Homo sapiens: one gene and its partners. The protein of the gene in region 1 interacts with the protein of each later gene in a pairwise test. Each region holds a gene or a part of one and is shown in the gene's direction. Other genes may lie near its edges.

The links.
Region 2: the proteins of MKRN3 (region 1) and CCDC185 interact in binary tests that used the Homo sapiens proteins (3 or more experiments, as listed by UniProt).
Region 3: the proteins of MKRN3 (region 1) and RBM41 interact in binary tests that used the Homo sapiens proteins (3 or more experiments, as listed by UniProt).
Region 4: the proteins of MKRN3 (region 1) and PKN1 interact in binary tests that used the Homo sapiens proteins (3 or more experiments, as listed by UniProt).

What each region holds. Positions count from the first base shown.
Region 1 is NC_000015.10:23,560,909-23,568,551, forward strand, and holds MKRN3 (E3 ubiquitin-protein ligase makorin-3), read left to right. Parts: upstream 1-4,765; 5' UTR 4,766-4,874; coding exon 4,875-6,398; 3' UTR 6,399-7,136; downstream 7,137-7,643. UniProt on the Homo sapiens protein: E3 ubiquitin ligase catalyzing the covalent attachment of ubiquitin moieties onto substrate proteins.
Region 2 is NC_000001.11:223,388,738-223,395,968, forward strand, and holds CCDC185 (coiled-coil domain-containing protein 185), read left to right. Parts: upstream 1-4,677; 5' UTR 4,678-4,738; coding exon 4,739-6,610; 3' UTR 6,611-6,728; downstream 6,729-7,231.
Region 3 is NC_000023.11:107,108,823-107,115,847, reverse strand, and holds part of RBM41 (RNA-binding protein 41), read left to right. Parts: intron 1-291; coding exon 292-496; intron 497-2,379; coding exon 2,380-2,451; intron 2,452-3,309; coding exon of another isoform or gene 3,310-3,344; intron 3,345-7,025. UniProt on the Homo sapiens protein: May bind RNA.
Region 4 is NC_000019.10:14,464,306-14,471,330, forward strand, and holds part of PKN1 (serine/threonine-protein kinase N1), read left to right. Parts: intron 1-3,259; coding exon 3,260-3,336; intron 3,337-3,412; coding exon 3,413-3,488; intron 3,489-3,570; coding exon 3,571-3,662; intron 3,663-5,035; coding exon 5,036-5,212; intron 5,213-5,446; coding exon 5,447-5,509; intron 5,510-5,606; coding exon 5,607-5,683; intron 5,684-5,857; coding exon 5,858-6,000; intron 6,001-6,269; coding exon 6,270-6,377; intron 6,378-6,465; coding exon 6,466-6,546; intron 6,547-7,025. UniProt on the Homo sapiens protein: PKC-related serine/threonine-protein kinase involved in various processes such as regulation of the intermediate filaments of the actin cytoskeleton, cell migration, tumor cell invasion and transcription regulation.

The sequences.
Region 1 (7,643 bases):
ATTAAATTTTGCCTCTAAGCATGACTTTAAGTGCAACCTAAGTCTTTTAACATGTTATACACTCATTACTGTTCAGTTGAAAATATTTTCCAGTTTTCTTTGTGATTGCTTCTACCACCCACAGGTTATTTAGGTTACTTAAGGCCATCTTTTTTTTTCCCCTGAGCACTCACCACATTAACTATTTCCTGTCTTTTAAGCATTTACTTCATGTATAGTAACCAGTTTCTATCCTTGTTCCGGATAAAAATACTAGCTTGAGATAAGTTATTTCATCTGACTACAAATTGGACATTAAGCATGTTTTGTATGTATAAAATACAGCAGTATGACAAAATTCTGTTAACCACCTTAAAGTTGAAATGTAGTTGAATTTTTGACATCTGTAGACAGAAGATTTCTTGAAAATTTCAGTGTTTGATTACAATATAGAAAAATCAGTATAAGCAGTATCTTTTATGATCTTTAAGTGGTTGTAGGAGTACTTACACCTCTTTTTCATATTCATATTGAAATTTAAAGCCATTTTAAAGTAACTTTTTGTTATCCAGTTATTCACTCAGGGTGATCAGATGTCTATTCAAAACAGCCAACAATGAGCTAAAGGAGTGCTGTTCCAGCCAGAATCCTACTGCTACCACAAGTGATGAAAGCACAAGAAATCCTCCACAAAGGTATTCTACAACTAAACTTCTGAACTAAGGGTTGGAGAAAACTGGCTCTTTAAATTTCAAAATAAAAATCAGTTTGTCTATCAATATAAGGCAATAAATACTCATTCACCACCTCTCATGTGCCAGTAATTTCTAGGGCCCCTATAGAAATCTGACTGCTGTGCACATAGAGGGACTGACACAAAGACTTCAGTCACAGGATTCTTTGGGTGGTTCTAAAATAGAAGAGACACTTACAGGTATCTTAAAGATCAGGCATCGTTCCAATCACTTTATAAGAATTAATGAATTATTATAAATTAATTAATACAGCAAACCTGTGAACTAGTCGGTGTAATTCTTGCTGTTATTATTCCCGTTGTCAGATGGGATAAAAGAAGGTAACTAATTTGTGACAGGGGAAAGTCTCAGATAGTGACCAGTGGATTCAGGATTTAAACCCACAATGCCCGATTCTGGACACTCGCGTTTAATTTCTGCGGCCCTTGCAGCTGCCGGCGCAGGCGCTGCACCCAGCGCTGCTCCGCGCGCCCAGCCCCGCTGGGTCCTGGACCCCGCCGGCAGCCGGCAGTGCCTAAAGGTTAGATCTGAAGGATAGGAGAGTGCTGAGAAGGATAATGCTTTTAGGCAATTAATTGTGTGTTCTTTAAATACGGACATGTTAACCACACGGGGCTAGGCAGCGCATGCCTGAGCTGTTTGGAGTAAAAAACTGCAGGACTTTGCAGCTTCTCTCCATCCTGCAGTTCACTTCTGAACTTGCTCCCTCCTCTTAGGATATTCTTAGACTGCCCGGACTTCACCTCAGCTCTGCCATCGCCCAGCCTTGCACTCATTCCATTCGGACCCCCAAATGCTGACCGGCCAGGGGATCCCATGCTACCCTGCAGACTGGTGTGTGCACAAGGAAACCAGGTCCCAGCCTCTGAGGCTGTCAGTGTTTTGTTAGAAAAGAAGGCACAGCTGAGCCAAATAACTAGACAAATGACTAAATGTCTACTTTCTGAGAACTGTAAAAACAATATTGATGCTCAAAAAATATACATATGTATATATCATGGCAGGAATATAGACAATGGCAGTCAGAGGAAATGATCTCTGAAGACATTTGGATAGGATGGGAACTAGTTTATTTTTCTCAAGATGCACTGCCCAGTTATTTCCAGTTATTCAATTTTTTATGGTATTTAAAATCATGGGATACAATATTGGCTTATAACAGTTTATATGAAATATTGTCACGACAAAACTAAAAGATAAAGTCACTATCAGACTATAAGACATGAACACCAGTGGCAGCCACACAGGTGGGCATTTGGAAGCAAACACTGCCTGGCACCAGCTGCATAGCCTTGGGCAGGTGAGGAAACATATGCTTCTCAGTTCCCTTGTGTTAGGAGATGAGATGGTCAAATATTGTATAGAACTTCACTCCAATGCAGTAACTACTAGCCTCATGTGGCTATTTAAATTTATAATTTAAAAAATGGACATTCATTTCCTCCGTCACTCTAGCCTCATTTCAAGTGCCCAAGAACCCCATGGGGCTAGCTTTCATACTGTACAGCATGCATATATATAAATTCTTCACAGAAAGTTCCTCTGGACAGTGCTGGTGCATCAAGAGAGGGTCAAATATGATTTAGATACAGTGCTGGGAAAATATCACAATTAAGCAAATAATAGATGCAGTGCTAGGAAAATATCACAATTAAGCCAGTAATAATTTTATATTCAGGATTCTTATGTTTGTGAATTTGTAGAGAGCTTGGCGTAGAAGCCTGAGAGCTGTGCTGCAAGTCTTTTTCTTGTAAAAATCACTGGGGCTGACAAACAAATCCTGATAAAGAGAAAGTTTGTTTCAGAAAGTTCAAGTGAGGCAGACTTTGGGACAGCTTGCATGCAAAATATAAAACTTGGTAACTATGAAAAGGAGAAAGATAAATCCAACATTTCCTACATTCACGATGAATAATCAGCACCATTTTCAAATAATTATCAAATTAGGAAAAGACTACCTTTTAAAAACATTGAGCCTTCTACTGACCGACTATAAAGACTATATATAAAGTATCCCACAATTTATTTAGGTCTTCTGAAGCTAAAATGTTTTTAATTTTATTGTATAACCTTAATTAGTTTAATTCCTAGGTTAGCTAACTTTTAATGTTGTTATGAATGTTATTAATTTTAAATGTTTACTTCAAATGTTATTGATGATAGAGAAATAAAAATGATTTTCATATATTGGACTCCTGTCCAGTGTCCTTGCTAAATGTACCTATTAAATCTAATAGCTTATCTGTAAATTATTCTCAATTTTCTGTTGCATTCCATCAATAATTTCTTTCCAGTTATAACATCTTTTATTTCTTTGCTATTACACTAGCTAGGACTTGCAATAATAAATACAGATTTTTTTTGCCTTTAGATTTATTTCAGAGAGAAAGTTTTAGAGACCTTTATTTAGATAATTATCTAAATTACAGATGTAATTTAACAGATCCATATTCACATGTATTTCTGCTCCTGTCATTTTTACTAATAGATGTTTCCACCAATATGACTATTTCATGTAACTTTTCAAGTTTTATCTCCTAACTTTGTTCCTGATATTCTCTAATGATTTTTAATGTCTGTTATTAATGTAGTGATAACATATTTGAAATTACTGATCTTGGGTATTAGAGCCTTCTTCATTTTTCCTTGATAAATTTCACCAGAAATTATCTGGCTTCAATAAGCAGTTTAAGGGATTTTACTTAATTTATTTCCCTTATTTAATATTTGTTTTTCTTCATTGCTTTTCTTGCCCTTATTATTTGCTTCATTCTGCTTTCATTGCTTTTACCTACTTAATTATAATTTAATTTGTTGACTTGGGTGATTATAAATATTCAGATATGTTTCCACTTTACAGATTTAGGCAACAAAATTTCCTCAAAGAAACTTATAGAAAAAAAATCCAATAATATATAAAATGATATATCATGACAGAAGGGCTTCTTATTAGAAACAAATTGGTTAGTTAAATATTTGAAACTCATAGCTGCAAATAATCACATTAAGAGAATAAAGGGAAAAACAAAATTGTCTCAAAAAATGTATAAAACTACATAACAGAATTCAGTATGCAGTCATGATACGTACTCTCAGCAAAGTAGGAATACAAAAAAATGATTAATCTACTACATTTATCTGCAAAAATGACAAAACGCTCATACATGGAAATTAAAGACCATTCCTTTGTGGATAATATGGCACAGGATATGTTATGAAAGGCTGTCCTGCCACAACACAGCACAGATGGGGTTGAAAGAAAGGAAGGGAAACAAAGGGCTGCCATGAATTAAACCAGTAGAGAAAATAAAAGCCTGGGTCATGCAGGGGACAGTGTCTTATTAGGCCAGCATCAGGACTGGTTGAAGTCTGGCGCTTCTAACACAGTGGGAAAATGAGCATAGTAATCACAATAAAGAAAGACATCTGAAAGGTGCTAACTTAGCCTCGGATCAGAAGTGCTCTCTGCTAATGCCTTGCTGGTGAAAAGCGTATCCAGTGTAAGCCCTCAGAAATCCCAGAAAACAAAGACCAAAAGAAACGGCGCCTTGTCAACCGAACGAATTGAAAAAAGCTTCCTGCCGCGATCGGGCATTAAAAGAAAAAAACCACAGACATAAGATGGAGTGAATAAAAAAAGAATTTATATAATTCATGGATGAAATGTTTCAGAATCTATAGGATTATATTTTTTTTAAGGCAGACAGATACGAAAATACAACGAAGCGTGCATGACCGAAACCAGAAGAGATTAAAGTAAAACCTCATTCTCCTGAGGAAATCGTGTGAGAAGGGACTTAGGGACTGCCGGAACACAGCGAAGCAGAGGCAGAAGGCAGACAAAAGGGGCTGGGTTGGTCCCCGCCTGTGTGAACGAAAAAATATGTCAGATTGGAAAATTGCGGTAAAAACCAGGCAGAGCACGTACGTTGCCCCCACAGGAAGTGTCCGCCATGCTGCCTGTGCCCGGAAGTAGGTAGGAACACACAGTCAGAGGGACCCAAAAGCAGGGGGGAAGGAAAAAGAGATGCACACTTCCCCCAGAGAAGCCTCCGAGCGCGGCCGCCATTCCGGGCCTCAAGCCCATAAAGAAAAAATACCGGAGAGGTTCTGGCACCATTTCGGGGTGCCAAAGCAGCCATGGAAGAGCCTGCAGCTCCCTCAGAAGCCCACGAGGCAGCCGGGGCCCAGGCAGGTGCTGAGGCAGCAAGGGAGGGTGTGTCTGGGCCGGACCTTCCCGTCTGTGAGCCCTCCGGGGAATCTGCTGCTCCAGATTCAGCCCTGCCACATGCGGCAAGGGGCTGGGCCCCCTTCCCTGTAGCTCCAGTCCCTGCCCACCTCCGCAGAGGAGGCCTGAGGCCTGCCCCAGCCTCAGGAGGAGGAGCCTGGCCCAGTCCGTTGCCAAGCCGAAGCAGCGGCATTTGGACAAAGCAGATCATCTGCAGGTATTATATACATGGGCAGTGCAAGGAGGGGGAGAACTGTCGCTATTCGCACGACCTTTCTGGTCGGAAGATGGCCACTGAGGGTGGCGTTTCGCCGCCTGGGGCCTCTGCAGGTGGAGGCCCTAGCACGGCTGCGCACATCGAGCCCCCGACTCAGGAAGTGGCGGAAGCCCCCCCGGCTGCATCCTCCCTTTCCTTGCCTGTGATTGGCTCGGCTGCTGAAAGGGGTTTCTTTGAAGCCGAGAGAGACAATGCAGACCGTGGAGCTGCTGGAGGAGCAGGTGTAGAAAGCTGGGCGGATGCCATTGAGTTTGTTCCAGGGCAGCCCTACCGGGGCCGCTGGGTTGCATCTGCCCCCGAGGCTCCTCTACAGAGCTCAGAGACTGAGAGGAAGCAGATGGCTGTGGGCAGTGGGTTGCGGTTTTGCTATTATGCTTCCAGGGGAGTTTGCTTTCGTGGGGAGAGCTGTATGTACCTCCATGGAGACATATGCGACATGTGTGGGCTGCAGACCTTGCACCCCATGGATGCTGCCCAGAGGGAAGAACATATGAGGGCCTGCATTGAAGCACACGAGAAAGATATGGAACTCTCGTTTGCTGTGCAGCGTGGTATGGACAAGGTGTGTGGCATCTGCATGGAGGTTGTCTATGAGAAGGCCAACCCCAATGACCGCCGCTTTGGCATTCTTTCCAATTGCAACCATTCCTTCTGTATTAGGTGTATCCGCAGGTGGAGAAGTGCCAGACAGTTTGAGAACAGGATCGTCAAGTCTTGCCCACAGTGCAGGGTCACCTCTGAATTGGTCATTCCCAGTGAGTTCTGGGTGGAGGAGGAGGAAGAGAAGCAGAAACTTATTCAGCAATACAAGGAGGCAATGAGCAACAAGGCCTGCAGGTATTTTGCGGAAGGCAGGGGTAACTGCCCATTTGGAGACACATGCTTTTACAAGCATGAATACCCTGAGGGCTGGGGAGATGAGCCTCCTGGGCCAGGTGGTGGGTCATTCAGCGCATACTGGCATCAACTTGTGGAGCCTGTGCGAATGGGAGAGGGCAACATGCTCTATAAAAGCATTAAGAAGGAGCTTGTCGTGCTTCGGCTGGCCAGTCTGTTGTTTAAGCGGTTTCTTTCACTGAGAGATGAGTTACCCTTCTCTGAGGACCAGTGGGACTTGCTTCATTATGAGCTGGAAGAATATTTCAATTTGATTCTGTAGCATCGTGCTGTGGCATGTGGTCTAGTCTGCTGAGGTTCTGTCGTCTGCTATTGCCTGTTTTCCCTGTGTTGACACTCTTACTGCTTTCAGGGGCTGTTGAGGCAGTGCTTCTGTTTTCTTGTCTATTCTGCATATCTTTCCCCCTAGGATTATGGTGATTATCTGTGTTAAAAAATAAGTCCTTAAAGTTACTGTTTTGGTGAAATTAATATTAATGTCAGCTTATGGCTTTTTTTTGTCATCTCTGTTGTCAACAGGATTAACTCAGTTCTAGTGTAGTGTTTACTGAATTTCCACACTTATTTTGAAGACCCTCAAGAGTAAATGTGGCAGAGTGAAAGGAGAAGTTTTAATTGAACTAGTAGCTTTGTGCTATAATAGCCTTAACAAATGGACCCTTGCAGGGCTTTGCAGCTGCTCATCTGTTTGTTTACAGTTTGTTCTTTCCCTCCTTCCCCTTCAAGTGCACTTGTTAAACTGTGATGAACTTGTGATTTTGTGTTTTACTTGACCAAAACCAAGTGTATATGTTTACATGTTTTTATCCTGTTTAGCTTGACATGAAATAATTTATATTTGGAAATATATATTTAAGAATTATATATATAAAAATATATATGTATAAGAGTTATGTATTTGAAAAAAATATATAAAAGAATATACATCACAATATAATATTTATGTTTATGTAATAAAGTAAATACAGAGCTGAAAGCTGAAGGTCAAAGCCTAACAGGATTGGCTGTTGTGTGGATGTGAGTTGTGTGAATAATCTTTCTGTCCCTCGCACAGAAGCCAGTAATTAGCATCTAATGAAAAGGACTGTTCAAGTGGGTCTGGCCAAATGTGACAGATGCAGATCTTAGAGGACTTACAAAGCACTATATTGGTAATTCTTACAATGGCATTAATAGCTTACTCTATAAATACAGAAATGGTTTTCCTATGCAGTTTAGCCACCTTCTCATTAATTCTTTGTAACAGCAAATCCTAGGCTCAGAGGCACAGTGCTTTGTATTTGATATACAAAGTCTCTAGACTTTCCCAACAAGGGGCTTTTGACAAAAGAGTTCAACATAAAAGTAACAAGATTATAAAAGGGAAAATAGAACAAAAATATTAAAACCAATGAGAATAAAAGAATGGAAAGATAAAATAATAAAATATAGAAAGCACTAAAAACTAAGTGTAAGACTAATATAGAAAATCTACATACAACTTAATTAGATTAAATGAAAGCAGTTT
Region 2 (7,231 bases), on another chromosome or scaffold:
TATTCATGCTCAAGGGCACCTACCATGTATGAGTACGGGCTGCCATATTAGACAGAGTAGCTATAGCTTTTTTCTCCCATTTGACCCATCCCAGAATTAGATGCTCTGCTAAGACATCGAATTGGAAGTCACCACAACAGCTAACAATCTGTTCTGAGGAAGGGCGTGGAACGCATTTCAATTCCACAGATGAATTTGAATTGTGGGGTCAGAGCACATTCTGCCATATTTGCCAAGTCTCCAACAAATTAGGAGGTCCAGGTCTTCATTTGGCAGAAGGCTCACATTCTAAGGCATCCAGCAAAATACATTGAGGATTTTTTTCTGCCAAATAAAAATGATTGTTCTTAGTATCAAGGGAATGTTTGGCAGTGTAGCATTTGCAAAACATCTCCTTCGTCTGCCCCAGGAAAGAGCTGACTTTAGCTTCCAGCCTGGGATCCTCTGAGGGGTCTCCATAACAGGCTACAGATGCAGGTGAGGAAGATTTCCTTGGCTCTGTGACGATGTGCTAAGGCTTGGAGCTTCCCCACCAGGACCCTCAAAGGAAGAGGTTTCTCTTTCAAGTTTTGGTGGTTTACTCCAGACATTCTATTTGCTGTTCTGTGTAGGGGTCACTTGTTATTATAACTTCTTTTACCAAATTTCCAAGATTGTTGTCTTCAAGATCACCTAGACTGGAGATCTGCTATCACTGCCACTTGGGTTAGAAACCCTCCTTCTCCATATCAAAGCATCCCCATGACATGAACCCTCAAACTCTGACCTGTTCCTCCAATCCATTCCTTCCTGTCCCCTGGCTATTGCCCTGGTTTGCGTTTCCTTATTGCCCACCCAGACTGCTGAACCAGCCTACTAATTGATCATCCACGCTGCTGCCAGGGTGAGCTTTCTAAAATCTAGATCCCATTGGGTTTCTTTCCTGGTTTCAAGAGTTTTATTGACTTCTCCCTGTGATCTATACAGTGGATTTCAACCCTCATAAAAAAGGATTGAAACAGAAGAACCCCAAATTTTTTCAGTGAAGTGTTATCAGGAGCTCCAAGATATAAAACAGATAAAGTCTAAGCTGCCCTGGGTAAAGCAAGGACAGAGGCCTCAGAGCCTGCCCTAAAGTCCTCCAGCCCTGCCCCTCTGGGCCCAACACAGCTCTGAGGAATCCCGGAACTCTTCCGGACACAGCTGGGATGCTGCAGCCCAGCGGGAGGATGTCTATGCTTCCTGGCTTGGCATAGCAGGCCCTCCAGAATCTGCCCCAGCCTACCTTTCTGGCCTCATCACCTGCCACTTCACTGCACACACTCTCCATGCCCCTGCTACACAAATCACACAACCCCAATGTGCCAGGCATTCGAGGCTCCACACTGCAGTCCATGCAGCTTCCTCGGCCTGGTGTCTTCCTGCTCATCCCTGTCTGGACAATCCTAACTGTCCTTCCAGGTTTCACTCCAGTGTCATCCTGTATGGAGCCCTCTCTTATAAACAATTCAGACAGAGCACACCCCCACCTTCCCCTGGGAAATCTGTTAAGGTGAACTGTTTAACCACTTAAAACATCTGCTACCCAGACCTGTTTCTCATAGCAATATCATCTTTCTAATCCTGGCCCAGATTATCAATAAATGTGTGTGACATTATGAAGTGAAGACTGTGTCCTTTATTCCATCGTCAGCAGAGGTGAGTGAGCCATACACAATTCCCTGAGGAATCCTGAGAACCTTCAGAGGAAGCAAGAGGCCAAAGAGCCCCGAACTGGAAATCTGAGCCCTTGGGTTCTCATTCTGACTCCATCCCAAACTAAGTCTTTAAATTCAGCTCTACGCTGCCATGGTTTTAGTGCTCTTGGCATAATGATAATGATGATTCTAATGGCTAATATTTATAAGGCAGCTACCACATGCAGACAGACACTGCTCTAAGCATTTTTCATGGATTAACTCATTTTTGCTTTACAGAACAAAGGCTGAAGCATTTACTAGATTGAACCCTTTCTCCAGCTGCATTTGGGACTGAAAGAGACTTTACAGGGATGAGGAAAGGTGAAATGACTGCTCAGGTGACTCAGCTGCTAGCAGAACTGGCTGGTGGCAGGTCTCCTGGCTTTCAGGTGAGTATACTTTCACCCACATAACACTGCTCTATGGGAGTAGCCTGGGTATTGACCTGTCCCTGCAAAATGTTTTACAAAGCATCAACAGAGAGATATGACACTCAGCTATCAGCACAACTCAATACATGAAAAAAATTTCCTAACTTCAAAAGTTAAATGATTCCATTCAAATTTGGTTTACTTTTTAAATTACCATCTAGTAAGGACTATATTCACATAAAATAATTTATTTAACAAGGATACAAATGGTGCCAATAAAATCTAGGGTAGAAAAACTTCTTATCCCCAGCTATAGACATGCTGGTGAGATCCTAACCAGGCAGAGTGGCTCCTTCCACTGTAGTTAAGGCTGCTACCACGTGGCTTCAAGGACATGGTGTCCATGACCCTCTGCTGTACATCAGATCATAATTCTCTTAAAAGCATGGCTCAATTTAAAGTGTATTCCCCGAGAGGCAGGCAGCACGCTATCATGGAAAGAGAAGTAAATCTGAAGTCAAAACTCCTGCCATTGACCAAGTGACCCTGGGGAAATCAGTTAATATGGCCAAGTCCCAGATTTGTCCAGTGGAAAATATTATCAAGGCTATTGGTCCTTCCTAGCTGGGGTTGCTGTGATGCTTCAAGGAGACGTGAATGAAGAGGACTGGTGTGGGTAAATACTCATTTTTCTTCTTTAAGGAATGGTCATACTTGGAGAATGCTATCCAGAACTGTTTCCTCATTGCAACCCTGCCTTAGTCTCTTCCAGATGCTATTAACAAAATACCACAGATTGGGTGGCATATAAATGAATGAAATTTATTTCTCACCATTTTGAAGGCTAAGAAGTCCAAGATCAAGACATCAGATTTGGTGTCTGGTGAGGATCCTCTCCCTGGTTCAGAGATGGCCATCTTTTCACTGTGTCCTCGCGTGACAGAAGGGATGAGGGATTACTCTGGGGCTCCTTTTATAAGGGCACTAATCCCATTGATGAGGGCTCCACCCATATGACCTAATCACCTCCTAATACTATCACCTTGAGGGTTAGAATTTTAACATATGAATTTGGGGGAAACACAAACCTTCAGACCACAGCAACCCCAGAGAAGAGAAATGACTTAGCCAAGATCCACAGTATGATGTGGACACGACAGAGCTTGGAGTCTCCCCTTTCTAGCACTCTATCCTTTACTTAAACTATTTTAGGATTACATTAATTTCATTCTTTTCTTAAGCTAGGAATCTGCAGAAATATTTGTAAATTCATATATTACTTTAAGTCTTAACACTTTGTTTTTGAGACAAAGTCTCACTCTTGCCCAGGCTGGGGTGCAGTGACACAATCATGGCTCACTGCAGCCTCAAATTCCTGGGCTCAAGCAATCCTTCTACCTCAGCTTCCAGAGTAGCTGGCACTACAAATGCACCCACCATGTCCAGCTAATTTTTAAAATTTTTATATAGAAGCAGGATCTCTCTATGTTGCCCAGACTGGTCTAAGTCCTGGGCTCAAGGAATCCTCCTGCCTTGCCTTCCCAACATGCTAGGATTACAGGCATGAGCCACCACCCAGCCCAACCCTTAAAACTTTTAACTGACGCTTAGCATGGCACCAAAATAATATTTATTGAATGTATTCTGGTGCCAACCTCTGGATGCATAATTTCATCTGACCCTCACAACAGTCCTGCAATGCCCATATGATGAGGCCCCACTTCCCATTCCACCTTGCTGGAACTGGAGGTCAGGGAAACTTAGGGAATTTGCCCAAGAGCCCATGAGTGAAGAGTGGTAGAGGAGATTCAAATTCTTTTTCTCTACCAGATCCAGTGCTTTTCCCATTAGCCAAGGGTGCCTCAACAAGGAACGAGAATCCCACAAAATTGGAGGAAAAGGGAAAAAAAAATGTGATTTCAACATGGTGTTCACTAATGCTATTGCAGAAATGTGCACGCAGCATTCACATTTTGACAAAAGCAGTAATTACCATATTAGGAAATAGAGTCGTCTTCTACCTTTTCTAAAAATCTTAAAAAGTAAACATTAAAGCATACTTTGGGCTTGCTAACTTAAAAGGCAAATGGGTGGTGTCGCGTCCACAGCCGTTCTATTTGACCACATTGCAGAGGTACACACGTGCAGGACGGTGATTCTGCAGCTAAGGGTACCTCCTCCCTGAGACTGCACCCCGGCCCTTCTCCCCACCCCTTCCATTCTGAGGGTGACGCCTTCACCTGGGCTCTCTTAAAATCCTGCTGTTTGTGTGCAAATGCGAGTTCAAATTTCTCCCTGAAACACTGGTGGGGGACACTATGCACCCTCAGCTTTAAATGTCACCCTGATTTCCTACATATTCCCTCCTCCAACATACAACCCCTCTCTCCCCCACCCGACCCCCACCACCCCCATCCCCAGCCTCCTGTCCTTCCCATTCCAGGTGCTCCGGGTGCTAGCAAAGCTGGGGTGGGCGGCGCCGGGCAAGGTCTGAAGACTGCGAGGACCCAGCTGCCAGGCGCATTGTGAAGTGGCCCGAGCGTCACAGGCGACCCGGACCTCGGGACCGGGGGGCAGGGCGGGTGTCTGCAGCGTCCTCGGGAGGTCTCAGGCCCCTTGGGCAGACGCTGCGCGTGCCCAGAGGGAGGGATGGCAGGCTTCAGCCACTTCTCCCAGCCGCCCTACCGGGATCTCTGGGAACCCCCGCGGCCCGGCGGAGAACGAGAGTCCACGCAGCGGCTGGGCGGGCAGAGGTCCGGAGCCGACTCCACCGCGTGCTCCCGGGCCGGGACTCCGGGTGCGGAGAGCGAAGCTGGGGCGTGCTGGCTGCACCCGCACTGTTCGTTCACCCCGCGGCCTCGCAGGCGCGGGTGCTCAGATTCACTGCGGGGCAGCCGAAGCCTGAGCGATGTGGCCCGCAGGCCCCTGGAACGTTCCAGGAAGCACCGGCCCCGCAGCAGGCGCCTGGAAGATGCCTGGGGAGAGACAGGAACCAAGCCCCGCCCGGCTTGGCAGCCGCAGACCCAGCTGCCACCCCAGCGGCCGCAGCCCTGCCCGCATTACCCTCTGGCCCAGGGAGACTCGCCCCCGCCTTGCCCCGGAGGAGCTGGCACTCCCCTGAGTGGCACATTCAGGGTAGAAAAGGCACAGGGTGGAGACCAGTGGGCAGTGCCACTCGGCAGACATCTAGGTCGCTGGTCCCCTTCCTCAGTTCCCTCGGAGCGGTCTTCTGTGCCCTCGCAAAAGTTCAAGAGGCACTCAGCCTGCGTGTGCGCCCAGAAGAGAGACAGCAGCGACCAGGTTGAGTCATTAGCCAGCCGGGACTCCCAGCCCTTGGCCTCCAGCAAAGAGATGCGGAGCCCGCACACCCAGGTCCTGAAGAGCAAGCTGGAAGAGGTGGTGGTGTCCTCCCAGGACCAGCAGATTGTGGCCCTGGTGCTGACCCGTCTCAAGAAGGCCCAGAGGATACGGGAGCTGCAGCAGCAGGCGGCTAAGGCCTGGGAGGAGCTGAAGCGCTCGGATCAGAAGGTCCAGATGACCCTGGAGCGGGAGCGCCGGCTGCTGCTGCGGCAGAGCCAGGAGCAGTGGCAGGAGAAGGAGCAGCGCAAGACCCTCCAGAGCCCTGAGCAGCGCGGCCTGCGGCGGGACAGCCAGAGGAAGAACGTGCCCCCGGGGGAAAGCCGGTGGAAGGAGCAACCAGAGGACCAGGAGAGCCCGCGCCAGGAGAAGCTGGAGAAGGCGCGCGCCCAGGCAGAGCACCGAAAACAGTGCCAGGTGCGGCGCCTGCGGGAGCAGGAGAAGATGCTACGGAACCTCCGGGAGCAGCACAGCCTGCAGCTGCAGAGGAGGCTGGTGGAAGCCTGTCGCAAGAGGCACCTACATGCCGTGGAGGGCCAGAAGAAGGTCCAGGACACCAACCTGAGCTCCCTCATCAATTACCAGGCCCGGAAGGTCCTCATGGACTGCCAGGCCAAGGCTGAGGAGCTCCTTAGGCAGCTGTCCCTGGAACAAAGTTTCCAGCGGTCCCAGGAGATACACCAGGGCCTGAGGAAGGAGCGGCAACGCGAGCTGAGGGAGAAGGCCCAGAAGGAGGAAGAGCAGTTGCAGCAGGCCAGGTGGCGCGCAGGGGAGTCAGAGGAACAGAGGAAGATGCGCAAAAGAATTCTGGTGGAGCTGGCGGATGAGAAGATCCGACAGGCCAGGAGTCACGTGCACAAGACCACTAGGGACAAGGTGCAGCACCTCCGGGAGCTCAACCACCTGAGGGAGAAAAACCACCACATCCTGAAACTGAAAGCCGAGAAGGAGGAAAAGTGTCACATTGAGGGCATCAAGGAGGCCATTAAGAAAAAGGAGCAGAGGGTGCAGCACATTTCCCAAGGGAAAGACCCAAACTTCCAGGAGTTCCAGAAGCTCCCTCAGGCCTCCAGGAGAGAGGAGAGAGCGCCTCCCAACAGCTCCCTTGATCAGATGGTACTAGAGGCCCAGCTCCGTGCCTGTCAGCAGAACAGGGGTTACTGAGAACCAAGGACGCCTGGCTTACAGTGCGCAGCCAGAAGGAGATGTGGCAATGTGATTCCTTTTGTAATCTGATTATAATTGAACATTGATTTTAAAAAAGCATGTAAAATAGCTGCAATTTCCTCTCATGAACTGGTTTATTGATTCACTTGGATAGTTTAGAGGGTCGGAGAGAAAATTTTGGGAATTTTTGTTTTTTTAAATTATACTTTAAGTTTTAGGGTACATGTGCACATTGTACAGGTTAGTTACATATGTATACATGTGCCATGCTGGTGCGCTGCACCCACTAACTCGTCATCTAGCATTAGGTATATCTCCCAATGCTATCCCTCCCCCCTCCCCCCTCCCCACCACAGTCCCCAGAGTGTGATATTCCCCTTCCTGTGTCCATGTGATCTCATTGTTCAATTCCCACCTATGAGTGAGAATATGCGGTGTTTGGTTTGTTGTTCTTGCGATAGTTTACTGAGAATGATGGTTTCCAATTTCATCCATGTCCCTACAAAGGACGTGAACTCATCATTTTTTATGGCTGCATAGTATTCCATGGTGTATATGTGCCACATTTTCTTAATCCAGTCTATCATTGTTGGACATTTGGGTTGGTTCCAAGTCTTT
Region 3 (7,025 bases), on another chromosome or scaffold:
GTTTTTTTTTGTTGGTTTTTCTCCTCAAAGAAACAGAGCAAAATATCTTCATTTTAGCACTGAGAGCCTTTTCATTTCTAGTTCTCACAAAACTGAGCTTGGTGTCTGAATCTTCTTTGATTTTTAGAATGCAGACATTGGTAAAAGAGAAGCTGTTCTTTAACTTCTTAGCTAACACTTTCTGTAAACATTCATTTCTGGGCCTAGGTCATCTTTTTACTTGAGATACCAGATCATCATGTTCAGGTTGTGCCCTCTATGATACATGCCATCTCATTCCTCTGGTTTCAGAAGACAAAACTGAGGGCAACTCCTGAAGCAATACAGAACCGTCTTCAAGATATTGAAGAAAGGATCTCGGAGCGTCAGCGCATTCTTTGCCTGCCACAGAGATTTGCAAAGAGCAAACAGCTGACCCGGCGAGAAATGGAAATAGAAAAGTCTTTATTTCAGGGAGCTGATCGTCACTCCTTCCTTAAGGCTCTTTATTACCAAGGTATGTGATCCCCACTGACTTTGATATATTCTTTCACTGAGAGAAAGATTAAACAGCAGGGCATTAAATATGAAGAGTTAGTGAAGGGAATAGGGGAAAGACAAATTGTCACTACTTTTGAGAAATGTATAATACCATAAGAGAGACAAATATGTGCACAGTTAGTTGCATGACAACATGGAAACTGCTATTATAGAGATTTGAATAAAATGCTGAGGTAGTGCAGAACACAGAGCATCTAAGTCTAGTTGGGGGAGTCAGAAGTTGACATTTATACTAACTCCTGATGGATCAATGGGCATTTGTCAGGTAAATAAAGGGGAATGGAGATTAAAGGTAGTAAATAGCAACAGGATTATGAAAGAACCTGGTGTGTCTAAGGAACAATGAGAAGTTTAACGTGGCAGGAGTAGAAGAAGTGGCAGGGAATGACAGGAGGTGACACTGGAAGGAAGGGGAGGCGAAGCTAGATTGTGAAGGGTCTTTAGGCTGAACTACAAATTAGCACAAAATATATAGATAAATAGTATGTGTCTTAACCAGAAGGATTTAGTTTGACAGATAAGTTTTACTAGACGCTGTGGAAGGTGCATGGAAGTTTAAGAAATGGTTCCTCACCTTGTGCCAAGTATAGTCTGGTTGGAGAGATAAACATGTAACATTTAGTGACAATACTAGATACATTTGTTAAGTGTTGTTGGAGTTCAGAGGAGGCAAAGGCCACTGTGTATTGGTGTGATTGAAGAAGCCCTCTCAGAGGAGGTAAGATTTAAATGTTCTTTTAATACTACCTATTCTTTAGAAAAGAGAGGTAATGACATTTCAGTTGCAACAGATGGTGTGAGCACTAGGGAGTGTGCTAACTATGGAGGAGATGTGAGACAAGGTTAGAAAGGTAGCTAAAAATTTTGAACTGTATTTGGTAACTAGTATAGACTTATACAGAGTTAGTTATCAGTTAGTTTCAATATGGTTGAAGGTTTTTGAACCAGAAGTGACATGATAAAAGCCATATTTGAAAATTATTAATCTGGTGGTCAATAAATAGGATTAGAGAGAGGAAGAACTGGAAGCAGGCAGAATGGATAGGAGATATTACAGTCATTTAGGCATGAAGACTTGGTCTAGAGTGATAGCAGTGAAATTGGAGAGAGGTAGGTTTATAATGGAAGAACTAATAAAACTCGTTGACTGAAAATGAAGGAGGGAGGTCAATGCAGAGGTATGTGTCAAAGATAATCCAGAGGTTTCAAGGCTGTGTGACTTACCAATTGGCAAAATTAAGAAAGCCTTTATGGGGAAATTTCGAGGAAGGATGATGAGTTTGATTTTAAACATGTGGAATTTGTGAGAATGGCAGGATCATCAAATGCAGATGTTGAGGAGACAGTTGGAAATGCAGCCGTGAAGCTCAGGAGAGAGGTCAGAACTAGATATATAGAACTGGGAATCATCTATCCTTAGATAACATGTTAAGGCCGTGAGAATGGATGAATGATTTGTTAGAGATAGAAGGATCATAGACATGGCAGAGCAGTGGTGAAGGAAGGAATGAATGAACAAATGAATAACCTTTTGTGGAGAGACATTTAGCATAATGATTAAGAACATGGGCTCTGGAGGCAGACTGCCTGGGAAAATCCTGGCTCCCCCACTTAACTAGCTATGAGATGCTAGGCAAGTTACCTCTCTATGCTTCAGTATCTTCATCTGTAAAATGAGAATATTAATAGTAGCTATGTTACAGGGTTACTAAGAGGATTAAGTGAGAGAATACATGTAAATCACTTAAAGCAGTACCTGGTATTTGGGGTGGAGGGTGGGTGGTTTATGAATCTGTTCTGTTTCCTATCTTTGAAACTCCTTGCTTTAAACCTTCACAGCATACCACAAAAAGACAAGTGCAGACAAGTACATGACCTCAATGAAGAGGAAGATAAAATTAGGCACAAAAGGCAAGTCGAGAGTTTTCTTATAGTGTTAGACTTAGGAATGTAACCTAGGGTCCCAGTTGAGCACTTATTTAATTCCATATTCAGTATATGACAATGTTTATAGGAAATGATCCAGAGGGAGCATATTATCCTGATACAGAATATTAAAGAGAGGAGTTAGTAGAAGTTGTAAAGCTTTTACATTTACTGCTGTTGTTTTTTCTCTATACATTTAAATTATTGTACCAGACATAAATTGACCTTAATGATTTTTAGATCCCATTTCACAAATAATTCTGAATATTTTTATTAGTCAGTAAAGTATAATTATTGATGATGATGATGATATGATAGCTAATATTTTCTTACTTTTGAAATGAACTTCCAATAAAATTGCATGGGGCTTCTTCTTTTTTGGTGTACAATTCTATGAATTGTAAATCATGTAGATTCATGTAACCACCACCACAATCAAGAAAGAGAATAGCTTCATCACCTTAAAAAACTCCCTCATGCTGTCCCTTTATAGTCATTCCCAACCCACCATAATTCCTGACAATCACTGACTGTTTTCCATCACTGTAGTTTTATCTTTTAGAAAATGTCATGTAAATGGAATCACACAACATGTAACCTTGTGAGACTGGCTTCTTTCACTCAGCATAATGCCTTTGAGACTCATTTGAGTTGTTGCGTGTATCAATAGTTCATTTATTTTGTTGAGTAGTGTTTCATCATATGGACATTCCAAAGTTTGTTTATCCATTCACCCATTGAAGTGCATTCGGGTTGTTTCCAGGTTATGATGGCTATGCATAATATTGATATGAACGTTCTTGTACAGGTTTTTTTGTGAACATAAGTTTTTATTTCTCTAAGGTAAATATCTAGAAGTGGGATTACTGGGTCATATGGTAAGTGTACATTTAACTTTATATGAAACTGCCAAACCATTTTCCAGAGTGGCTGTACCATTTTGCATTTTCACCAGCAATGTATGAAAGTTCGAGTTGCTCTACATCTTTGTCAGCACTTGGTATTGTCAGTATTTATTTTGGTTATTTCAATAGCTGTGAAGTGGTACCTCATTGTAGTTTTAATTTGCATTTCTTTAATGGCTAATGATGTTGAACATCTTTCATTTGCTTATTTGCCATCCTTATATCCTGTTTGCTAAAGTGTCTGTTCAAATCTTTTGCTGTTTTATAATTGGGTTGTTTATTTTCTTCCTGATGACTTTTGAGAGTTCTTTGTATATTCTAAACACAATCTTCTGTTGGATATGTGATTTTCACACATTTTTTCCCAGTCTGTAGCTTGTCTTTTCATTCTCTTAACAGTGTCTTTTGCAGGGCAAACTTTTTTTATTGTGGTAAAATATACATAAAATTTACCATTTAAACCACTTTTAAGTGTGTAGTTCTATGGCATTAAGTACTTTCACATTGTTCTGCAACTATCACAGCCATCCATCTCCAGAAATTTTTCATCTTCCCAAACTGAAACTCTGTACTTATTAGATACTAACTCCCCGTTTTCTCCATCCCCACCAGCCTCTGGCAACCACCATCCTACTTTCTGTTTCTATGAATTTGACTACTCTCAGTATATAAGTGGAATCATACAATATTTGTCCTTTTGTGACTGGCTTTAGTTAGCATAATATCTTCAAGATTCATCTAAGTTGTAGCATGTGTCAGAATTTTCTTTTTAAGGTGGAATAATATCCCATTGTATGTATATAGCACATTTTGTTTATCAATTGATGGATGCTTAAGTTGTTTCCATGTTTTAGCTTTTGTGAATAATGCTGCTACGAACATGGGTATACAAATATCTGTTTGAATACCTGCTTTCAATTATTGTAGGTATATACTCAGAAATGGAATTGCTGGATCACATCTTAATTCTACATGTAATTTTTTGAGAAACTGCCATATCAGTTTCCATAGAGACTGTACCATTTTACATTCCCACCAGCAATGCACAAGATAAGAGTTCCAGTTTCTCCATACCCTTGGCAACACTTACTATTTTCTTAAAAAATAATAGCCGTCCTAATGGGTATGAAATGTTATCTTATTGTGGTTTTGATTTCAATTTCCCTGATGATTAGTGCTGTTGAGCATCTTTTCACATGCTTTTTGGCCATTTGTATATCTTCTTTGGAGATGTATCTGTTCAGATCTCTTGTCCATTTTTAAAATAAGTTTCTTGTTTGTTGTTGAGTTGTAGAAGTTCTATATATATTCTGTATATTAATTCCTTATAAGATATATGACTTGCAAATATTTTCTCCTATTCCAAGAATTGCCTTTTCACTCTGTCCTTTGATGCACAAAGTGTTTAATTTCGATGAAGTCCAATTTGTTGATTTTTTTCTTTTGTTGTCTATGCTTTTGGTGTCATATCCAAGAAATCATTGCCAAATCCATTGTTATGAAATGAAGGCTTTTCCTTATGTTATCTTCTGAGAGTGTTATAGCTTTAGCTCTCATGTTTAGGTCTTTGAACCTTTTGAGTTAATTTTCGTATATGGTATTAAGGTAAAAATTCAGCTTTATTATTTTCATGTTGATATTCAGTTTTCCCAGTGCCAGTTGTTGAAAAAAGACTGTTCTTTCCACACTGAATGATCCTGGCACCCTATTCAAAAATCATTTGACTATATATACCTGTCTTTATGCCAGTACCACACTGTTTTAATTACTGTAACCTTGTAGTAAGTTTTGAAATCAGGAAGTGTGAGAACTCCAACTTTGTTCTTTTTCAAAATTGTTTTGGATATTTGGGGATTGGTTGAGATTCCATATGAATTTTAGAATGGATTTTTCTATTCCTGTAAAAAAATGTTATTGACGTTTTGGTAGGACTTACATTGAATCTGTATATCACTTTGGTTAGTATTGATGTCTTAACAGTATTGTCTTCTAAGTCATGAACATGGGATGTCTATTTATTTGTGTCTTGTTTAATTCCTTTCAGCAACATTTTGTAGTTTTCAGTGTATAAGTCTTTTACCTCACAGAAAATGTTTTCAAGTATTGTTTCAAATCTTGTTTATCAGTTGATCCTTTCATGGGTTGCCTTTTATGTATGTGCATTTATATGTATCTAACAACTCTACCTGTTCATGAAAAAGATATTTTCCTATGTTTTCTTCTGATAGTTATATAGTTATACATTTTACATTTAGATCTATGATCCATTTTGACTACTTGATGTTTATATAAGGTATGAAGTTTAGGTTAAAGTTCACTTATTTTTTTTTTTTGGCTTCAAATGTCCTGTTGTTTTAGAACCAACTGTTAAAAGAGTATCCTTTCTCCATTTACTTGCCTTTGCATTTTTGTCAGAAATCAATTGGCCGAATTTGTGTGTTAATACTTAACCTCATAATTAATGGTGAAAAGTTGAAATTCTTCCCCAAAGATCAAAAATAAGATAAGGATGTCCACTCTTGCCACTTCTGTTCACAGTGGAATGAAATTCGAAATAAATAACAGAAGGACATTTAGGAAAATTACAAATATGTGGAAATTAACACTCTACCAAACAGTCAATGAATTAAAAGGAAATCAAAAGGAATATTAGAACATATTTTGAGGTAAATTAAAACACAGCATGCCAAAAACTTATGGAGTAAAATAAAATCAGTGTTTAGGGGGATATTTAGCTGTAATGCCCATAGTTGTATATGCCCATATTAATAAAGAAAAAAGATTTCAAATTAATAACTGAAATCTCCACCTTAAGAACTTATTAAAAGAAGAGCAAACTAAATCCAAATCAAGCTGATGAAAAGAAATAATAAAAAATGGAGCAAAAATAAATGACATAGAGGAAATAATAGAGGAAGTCAACAAAACCAAAAGTTAGTTCTTTGAAAAGATCAACTTAATTTATAATCCCTTAGCTAGACTGATCAAGTTAAACAGAAAGAAGACTCAAATTTCTAAAACTCAGCTCCACTTTGGTTCTTATTTGTATGGGACATCTTTTTCCATCTTTTTGCTTTTAATCTATTTGTGTTTTTGAACCTAAAGTGTGTCTCATGACAGCAAATAGTTTGGATTATATTTTCTCTTTTTAATCAATTATTTCAATCTCTGCCTTTTGAGTGGAGAGTTTAGTTCATTTATTTTAATGTATTTAATTAGAGTCTGTTAAGGATTTACATCTGCTATTTTGCTTTTTGTTTTCTGTTTCTCTTCTATCTTTTTTGTTCCTCTGTTCCTCCATTTATTCCTTCTTTTATGTTAAATAGATTTTTCCAATGTGCCATTTTAATTAACTTCTTGCCTCTTTTACTGTTTTTGTGTATGTGTGTGTGTGTTAGTGGTTGCTCTGGGGATTACAATTAACCTCTTGGCTTAAATAAATTAATTTGTATTAAAACCAACTTAATTTCAATTATATTAAAAAACTTTGTTTAGCTGTTCTCTACCTCCCATACTTTCTACTGTAATTGTCATACCAATTACATCTCAGAATGTGGCTTTTCATTGAAGTGCCAGGCAGGTCAAATAGTTCCATCCAGGTAAAATAGTGAAAATTCTCCAAGGATGGGGCTTTTATGGTGCTCCAGAACTGGT
Region 4 (7,025 bases), on another chromosome or scaffold:
GCCCAGATCCCCATCCTGGTTAAAAAACTGCTCATGCCTATAATCTCAGCACTTCTGGGAGGCTGACATGGGAGGATTGCTGGAGCCCAGGAGTTTGAGACCAGCCTGGGCAACACAGTGAGCCACTGTGAGCCATGATCCTGCCACTGCACTCCAGCCTGGGCAACATAGCGAAATACTATCTCAAAAAACAAAACAGGCTGGGCACAGTGGCTCACACCTGGAATCCCAGCACTTTGGGAGGCTGAGGCGGGTGGATCACTTGAGGCCAGGAGTTCAAGACCAGCCTGGCCAACACAATGAAACCCCGTCTCTAATAAAAATACAAGAATTAGCCGGGTACGGTGGTGGGCACCTGTAATCCCAGCTACCCGGGCAACTGGGGCAGGAGGATCAGTTGAACCTGAGAGGCGGAGGTTGCAGTAAGCCAAGATCATACCAATTGCGCTCCAGCCTGGGCGACAGAGCGACTCCATCTCAAAAAATAAAAATAAATAAAACTGTGAGCTCAGCGGCTGGACCCCCTGGGTTCCCACCCCTGCCGTGCCACCTCTTGGCTCTGCGCTTCACCTCTGTGCCTCAGTGTACCACTTTGCAAAACGAGCATATTTAAAACTCATGTCAATGATAGAATGATCGAGAGAGTGCTGTTCTCTAGGCAGAGGTTACCGCAAGCTGGGAGCCACAAGGGGACCTGCCGGGTGATGGAAATGTTCCTTATCTTGATCTCGGTCAGAGGTCAGCACGCGTTTTCCAGAAAGGGCCAGAGAGTCAATATTTTTGGCTTTGTGGGCTAGACAGTCCCTGTCTGCTTTGTAGTTTGAAAGCAGCCACAGACGATATATGTACACTGTAAGCGTGTCTCTATTCCAGTAAAACCTTATTGGTAGTACACGCGGAAGTTTGAACATTGTAGAACTTTCATGGGCAATGAAATATTATTCCTTTTTTTGTTTTTTTTTATTCCCCCAACGATTTAAAAATGTAAAAATCAGTTTACCTGTGGTCCCAGCTACTTGGGAGGCCGAGGCAGGAGGATGACTTGAGCCCAGGAGTTGGAGTCTGGCCTGAACAACATGGCAAAACTCCATCTCTTTTTTTTTTTTTTTTGAGATGGAGTCTCACTCTGTTGCCCAGGCTGGAGTGCAGTGGCGTGATCTAGGCTCACTGCAACCTCTGCCTCCCAGGTTCAAGGGATTCTCCTGCCTCAACCACCCGAGTAGCTGGGACTACAGGTGTGTGCCCACCACACCCAGCTAATTTTTGTATTTTTAATAGAGACGGGGTTTCACCTCGTTGGCCAGGCTGGTCTTGAACTCCTGACCTCAGATGATCTGCCCACCTCAGCCTCCCAAAGTGCTGGGATTATAGGTGTGAGTCACCATGCCCGGCCACTGCATCTCTTAAAAAAAAAAAAAATAGTGAAAGCCATTCTTAGCTCTTACAAACTATAAAAACAGGCTGGCCCACCAGCCAGCATTTGCCAACTCCTAGGCTGGCTGATGGTTTCCTGGGTGGATGCATATGTAACCTGTTCCTCTTGCCCACCTCACTGAATGCATTTTATTTATTTATTTATTTTGAGACAGAGTCTCACTCTGTCGCCCAGAATGGGCGTTGGAATGCAGTGGCGTGATCTCAGCTCACTCCAATCTCCGCCTCTCAGGTTCAAAGATGCCCATGCCTCAGCCTCCCTAATAGCTGGGACTACAGGCATGTGCCATCATGCCCAACTAATTTTTGGTTTTAGTAGAGATGGGGTTTCACCATGTTGGCCAGGCTGGTCTTGAACTCCTGACCTCAAGTGTTCTCCCCTCTGCAGCCTCCCAAATTGCTGAGATACAGGTATGAGCTACTGCACCCAGCCTGAATGCATTTTATCTTTTATCTTTTTTTTTTGAAACGGGGTCTCGCTCTGCCATCCAGGGTGGAGTGCAGTGGCGCAGTCATGGCTCGCTGCAGCCTCGACCTCCTGAGCTCAGGTGATCCTCTCACTTCAGCCTCCCAAGTAACTGGGACTACAGGCGTGCACCACCACACCTGGCTAATTTTTTATAGATCTAATTTTTTAGAAAGTAGAAGTAATGGGTTGGGCATGGTGGCTCACGCCTGTAATCCCAGCACTTTGGAGTCAAGAGATCAAGACTATCCTGGCTAACATGGTGAAATCCCATCTCTACTAAAAATACAAAAATTAGCCGGGCGTGGTGGCGCACGCCTGTAATCCCAGCTACTTGGGAGGCTGAGGCAGGAGAATTGCTGGAATCTGGGAGGCGGAGGTTGCAGTGAGCTGAGATCACACCACTGTACCCCAGCCTGGGCGACAGAGTGAGACTCAGTCTCAAAAATAAAAAAAATAATAATAAAAAATGGACATTGTCAAGCCAGGCATGATGGCTTGCACTTGTAGTCCCAGCTACTCAGGAAGCTGAACGAAGAAGATCGCTTGAGGCCAGAAGTTTGAGACCAGCCTGAGGAACAGAACAAGACCCCATCTCTACAAAAATTAGGCCGGGCGCGGTGGCTGACGCCTGTAATCCCAGCACTTTGGGAGGCTGAGGCAGGTGGATCACCTCAGGTCGGGAGTTGAAGACCACCCTGACCAACATGGAGAAACCCCATCTCTACTAAAAATATAAAAAATTAGCCGGGCGTAGTGGTGCATGCCTGTAATCCCAGCTGTTTGGGAGGCTGAGGTAGGAGAATCACTTGAATCCGGGAGGCGGAGGTTGCAGTGAGCGAAGATCACACCATTGTACTCCAGCCTGGGCAACAAGAGTGAAACTCCATCTCAAAAAAAAAAAAAATGAGCTGGACGTGGTGGTGCATGCCTTTAGTCCCAGCTACTCAGGAGGCGGAGGTAGAGTTGGAGGCTGCACTGAGCTATGACTGCGCCCCTGCACTCCATCCTGGAAGACAGAGCAAGACCCTGTCTCTAAAAAAAAAAATTCAGGTTGGGCATGGTGGCTCACGCCTGTAATCCTGGCACTTTGGGAGGCCGAGGCGGGTGGATCACCTGAGATCAGGAGTTCCAGACCAGCCTGGCCAACATGGTGAAACCCCGTCTCTACTAAAAATACAAAAATTAGCCAGCCATGGTGGTGCAGGCGTGTGGCTGGAGGAGAGTGAGTGAGGGGCTGCGTGGGAGGAGAGGTGAGGACAGAGAGGTCGGGGGCAGATCTTGCAGGGCCTCGGAGGCTGCTGTGGTTATGAGGGCATCTCTGACTCCCCTTACTCTGGCCTCCTCTCTCCGCCACAGAGCTCCCCCATCCAGGAATCCACTGCTCCCGAGCTGCCTTCGGAGACCCAGGAGACCCCAGGCCCCGCCCTGTGCAGGTGACACCACTCCCTGGCCCCCTGTCCACCACCCCTGCCCGCTGTCCTTGTTCTCACCAGTGGCCTCTCTCCACAGCCCTCTGAGGAAGTCACCTCTGACCCTCGAAGATTTCAAGTTCCTGGCGGTGCTGGGCCGGGGTCATTTTGGGAAGGTGAGGTGGAGGGCAGGGAATTGGGAGACCCCCCAGGTCCCTGGCTGGCCGCTAAAACCACCCCTGCCCACTGTGGTTCCAGGTGCTCCTCTCCGAATTCCGGCCCAGTGGGGAGCTGTTCGCCATCAAGGCTCTGAAGAAAGGGGACATTGTGGCCCGAGACGAGGTGGAGAGGTGGGGACCTGCCGTGGTCCTCTGGGGACCTCTTTCTTCTCTTTTGGGAAATGACAGAGCAGTTCTCTCCTTGGAGCTACAGGGAGAGTGACTCATAGTAGTCACTAACGCCAGGCACAGTGGCTCTTACCTGTAATCCCAGCACTCTGGGAGGCCGAGGCAGGTGGATCACTTGGGCTCAGAATTTCAAGACCAGGCTGGGCAACATGGTGACACCCCCATCTTTACAAAAAATACAAAATAATTAGCTGGGTGTGGTGGCACATGCTTGTAGCCCCAGCTACTCATGAGGCTGAGATAGGAGGATCGCCTGAGCCCAGTAGGTCAAGGTTGCAGTGAGCTGAGATCGCGCCACTGCACTCCAGCCTGGGCAACACAGTGAGACCCTGTCTCAAAACAAAAAGTCACTAATACCTACTAGCCTAATACCAAGATAATAATAGCTCTTAGGAAAGTTATTCATTTGTTCCTCCATGTAGCCCTATAAGATAAATACTGATGGCACAGAGAGGTTCAGCAATTTACCCAAGGTCACACAGCCAGTAAGCAGCAGGTCCAGGATTCAAAGCTAGAGACTCAGGCTCTGAAGCCTGTGCCCTTTGTGGTGCCACCATACTGCCTCTGCTTTAGGGTCAGGTTCCTGGGTTCAAATCTCAATTCTGCAGCATGGGCTTGGAGATCCTGGGGAGGTCACTTCTCCCTTCAGAACCTCAGCTTCTTGGCTGGGCATGGTGGCTCACGCCTGTAATCCCAGCACTTTGGGAGGCTGAGGTGGGCAGATCATCTGAGGTCAGGACATCGAGACCAGTGTGGCCAACATGGTGAAACCCCGTCTCTACTAAAAATACAAAAATCAGCCAGGCATGGTGGCGGGTGCCTGTAGTCCCACCTACTTGGGAGGCTGAGGCAGGAGTATCGCTTGAACCCAGGAGGCGGAGGTTGCAGTGAGCCAAGATCGCACCACTGCACTCCAGCCTGACTCTGTCTCAAAAAAAAAAAAAAAAAAAAAAAAGAACCCCTCTTGTTGTGGAGAAGCAGAATGCTATTGCCTTCCACACATGGTTGTCAGGTGCTCTCTACACAGTGCCTAACCCCTCTAAACATTCGGTACAGGCACTGAGATTGTGCCTGGTCTTCCCAGCATCCTTTTGATAATCAGGAACCCAACTGAGAAAGACTGAAACAAGTAAAGAAATTTATTGGTCTGGATCTGAAAAGTCCAGGAGTGTGCTACCTTCAGGCATGGCTGTATCCAGGTGCTGAGATGACGTTTCTCAGTTCTGCTTCCCTCTGTATGGGCTTTGGTTGCCATCTGGGAGTCTGGAGTAAGTGGCGGCCATGGTCTCTGACTTCTATCCCCCACCCCTCCCCAGCCTGATGTGTGAGAAGCGGATATTGGCGGCAGTGACCAGTGCGGGACACCCCTTCCTGGTGAACCTCTTCGGCTGTTTCCAGACACCGGAGCACGTGTGCTTCGTGATGGAGTACTCGGCCGGTGGGGACCTGATGCTGCACATCCACAGCGACGTGTTCTCTGAGCCCCGTGCCATGTGAGCCTGGACCCCAGCCCGGGCCCCTGCCTCCCCTACAGCATCTGACACTTAGTCCCCCCGAGAGGCTGGCAGCCTGCTTCTCACCCCTCCACCCTCAGGCCTTGCTTCCCTCAGCCTCCCAGAGCTTTGGGGAGACTGGGGGGCTTTTGAGGATGTGGAAGCCAGGCTTATGTGACCCTCCCTCCTTGCAGGGTGGCCCCACCCCTCTCAGCAGCCTCTCTCTCTCTGCAGCTTTTATTCCGCCTGCGTGGTGCTGGGCCTACAGTTTCTTCACGAACACAAGATCGTCTACAGGTGTGTGCGTGTGTGCATGCATGTGCACACTGCCCGTTGTGGGGACAGGACCCAGACCCCCGCTCATCCCTCTTTCCACCCCTCCAACCCCCAACAGGGACCTGAAGTTGGACAATTTGCTCCTGGACACCGAGGGCTACGTCAAGATCGCAGACTTTGGCCTCTGCAAGGAGGGTGAGGGGCTGGCCTCTGGATTAGACAAAGGAGGGGGAAGGAATGGGGTCCCTAACCCTATTCGGGGTGCCCCCCACCCTGACCCTGGGACAGGGCTGGCTGTGTGGACAACCCCACATTGGGCTGAGTGACTCCTCTGGCCCCCATAACCTCACATGGCCTTGCTGTCCCCAGGGATGGGCTATGGGGACCGGACCAGCACATTCTGTGGGACCCCGGAGTTCCTGGCCCCTGAGGTGCTGACGGACACGTCGTACACGCGAGCTGTGGACTGGTGGGGACTGGGTGTGCTGCTCTACGAGATGCTGGTTGGCGAGGTGAGACCCCGCCCCTGTGTGTCTCGGATCTCATTGGAACCTGCGCGTGCCCAGGGTGGGATCCAAGTCTGCCTCCACCATGTGTTGTGTGATTGAGGGCTGCTGGCTCTGCTTCCCTGGCCTCAGTTTCCACATCTATAAAATGGGGCATTTCCCTGCCCAAGTAAGCCAGCACCCAAGAGCTGCAGCAGAGTGTGGGGCTCAGGCCGGGCTGGGTTTGGAGCAGCCAGAGGAGGGGCCTCGTTCACCCCGGGCCTCCCTCTCCCCAGTCCCCATTCCCAGGGGATGATGAGGAGGAGGTCTTCGACAGCATCGTCAACGACGAGGTTCGCTACCCCCGCTTCCTGTCGGCCGAAGCCATCGGCATCATGAGAAGGGTGAGGACCCCCGACGTGGGGCGGGCCTGGGGAGGGGCAGTGGGGCCCAGGAGGGGACAGATCCTGACACAGTGCTCCTTCCTCCAAGCTGCTTCGGAGGAACCCAGAGCGGAGGCTGGGATCTAGCGAGAGAGATGCAGAAGATGTGAAGAAACAGCCCTTCTTCAGGGTGAGATTCCCCACAAGGACCTCAGTGACCCCGGCCCTCCCCCAGGGCCGATTCATCACCCCACAGCAGACGGCCCCCATGCCTAGCCGCTTTGCCTCAAGGGCCTCGTTGCGCCTCAAGGGCCTCGTTGCACCTCCAGGGCAACATCGTCACCTCCTTTGACACCCCCATTTCCCTCCTCCACTTTTGTTCCCCCCAAGGACCCTCCTAATCCCACATCTCCACTTTTCCCTTTTTTTTTTTTTTTTAGCCAGGGTCTCGCTCTGTCGCCCAGGCTGGAGTGCAGTGGCTCAATCTCGGCTCACTGCAACCTCCGCCTCCCAGGTTCATGCAGTTCTCCTGCCTCAGCCTCCCGAGTACCTGGGATTACAGGCGTGCACCACTCCACCACACCAGGCTAATTTTTGTATTTTTAGTAGAGACGGGGTTTCGCCATGTTGGCCAGGCTGGTCCTGAACTCCTGGCCTCAAGTGATCCTC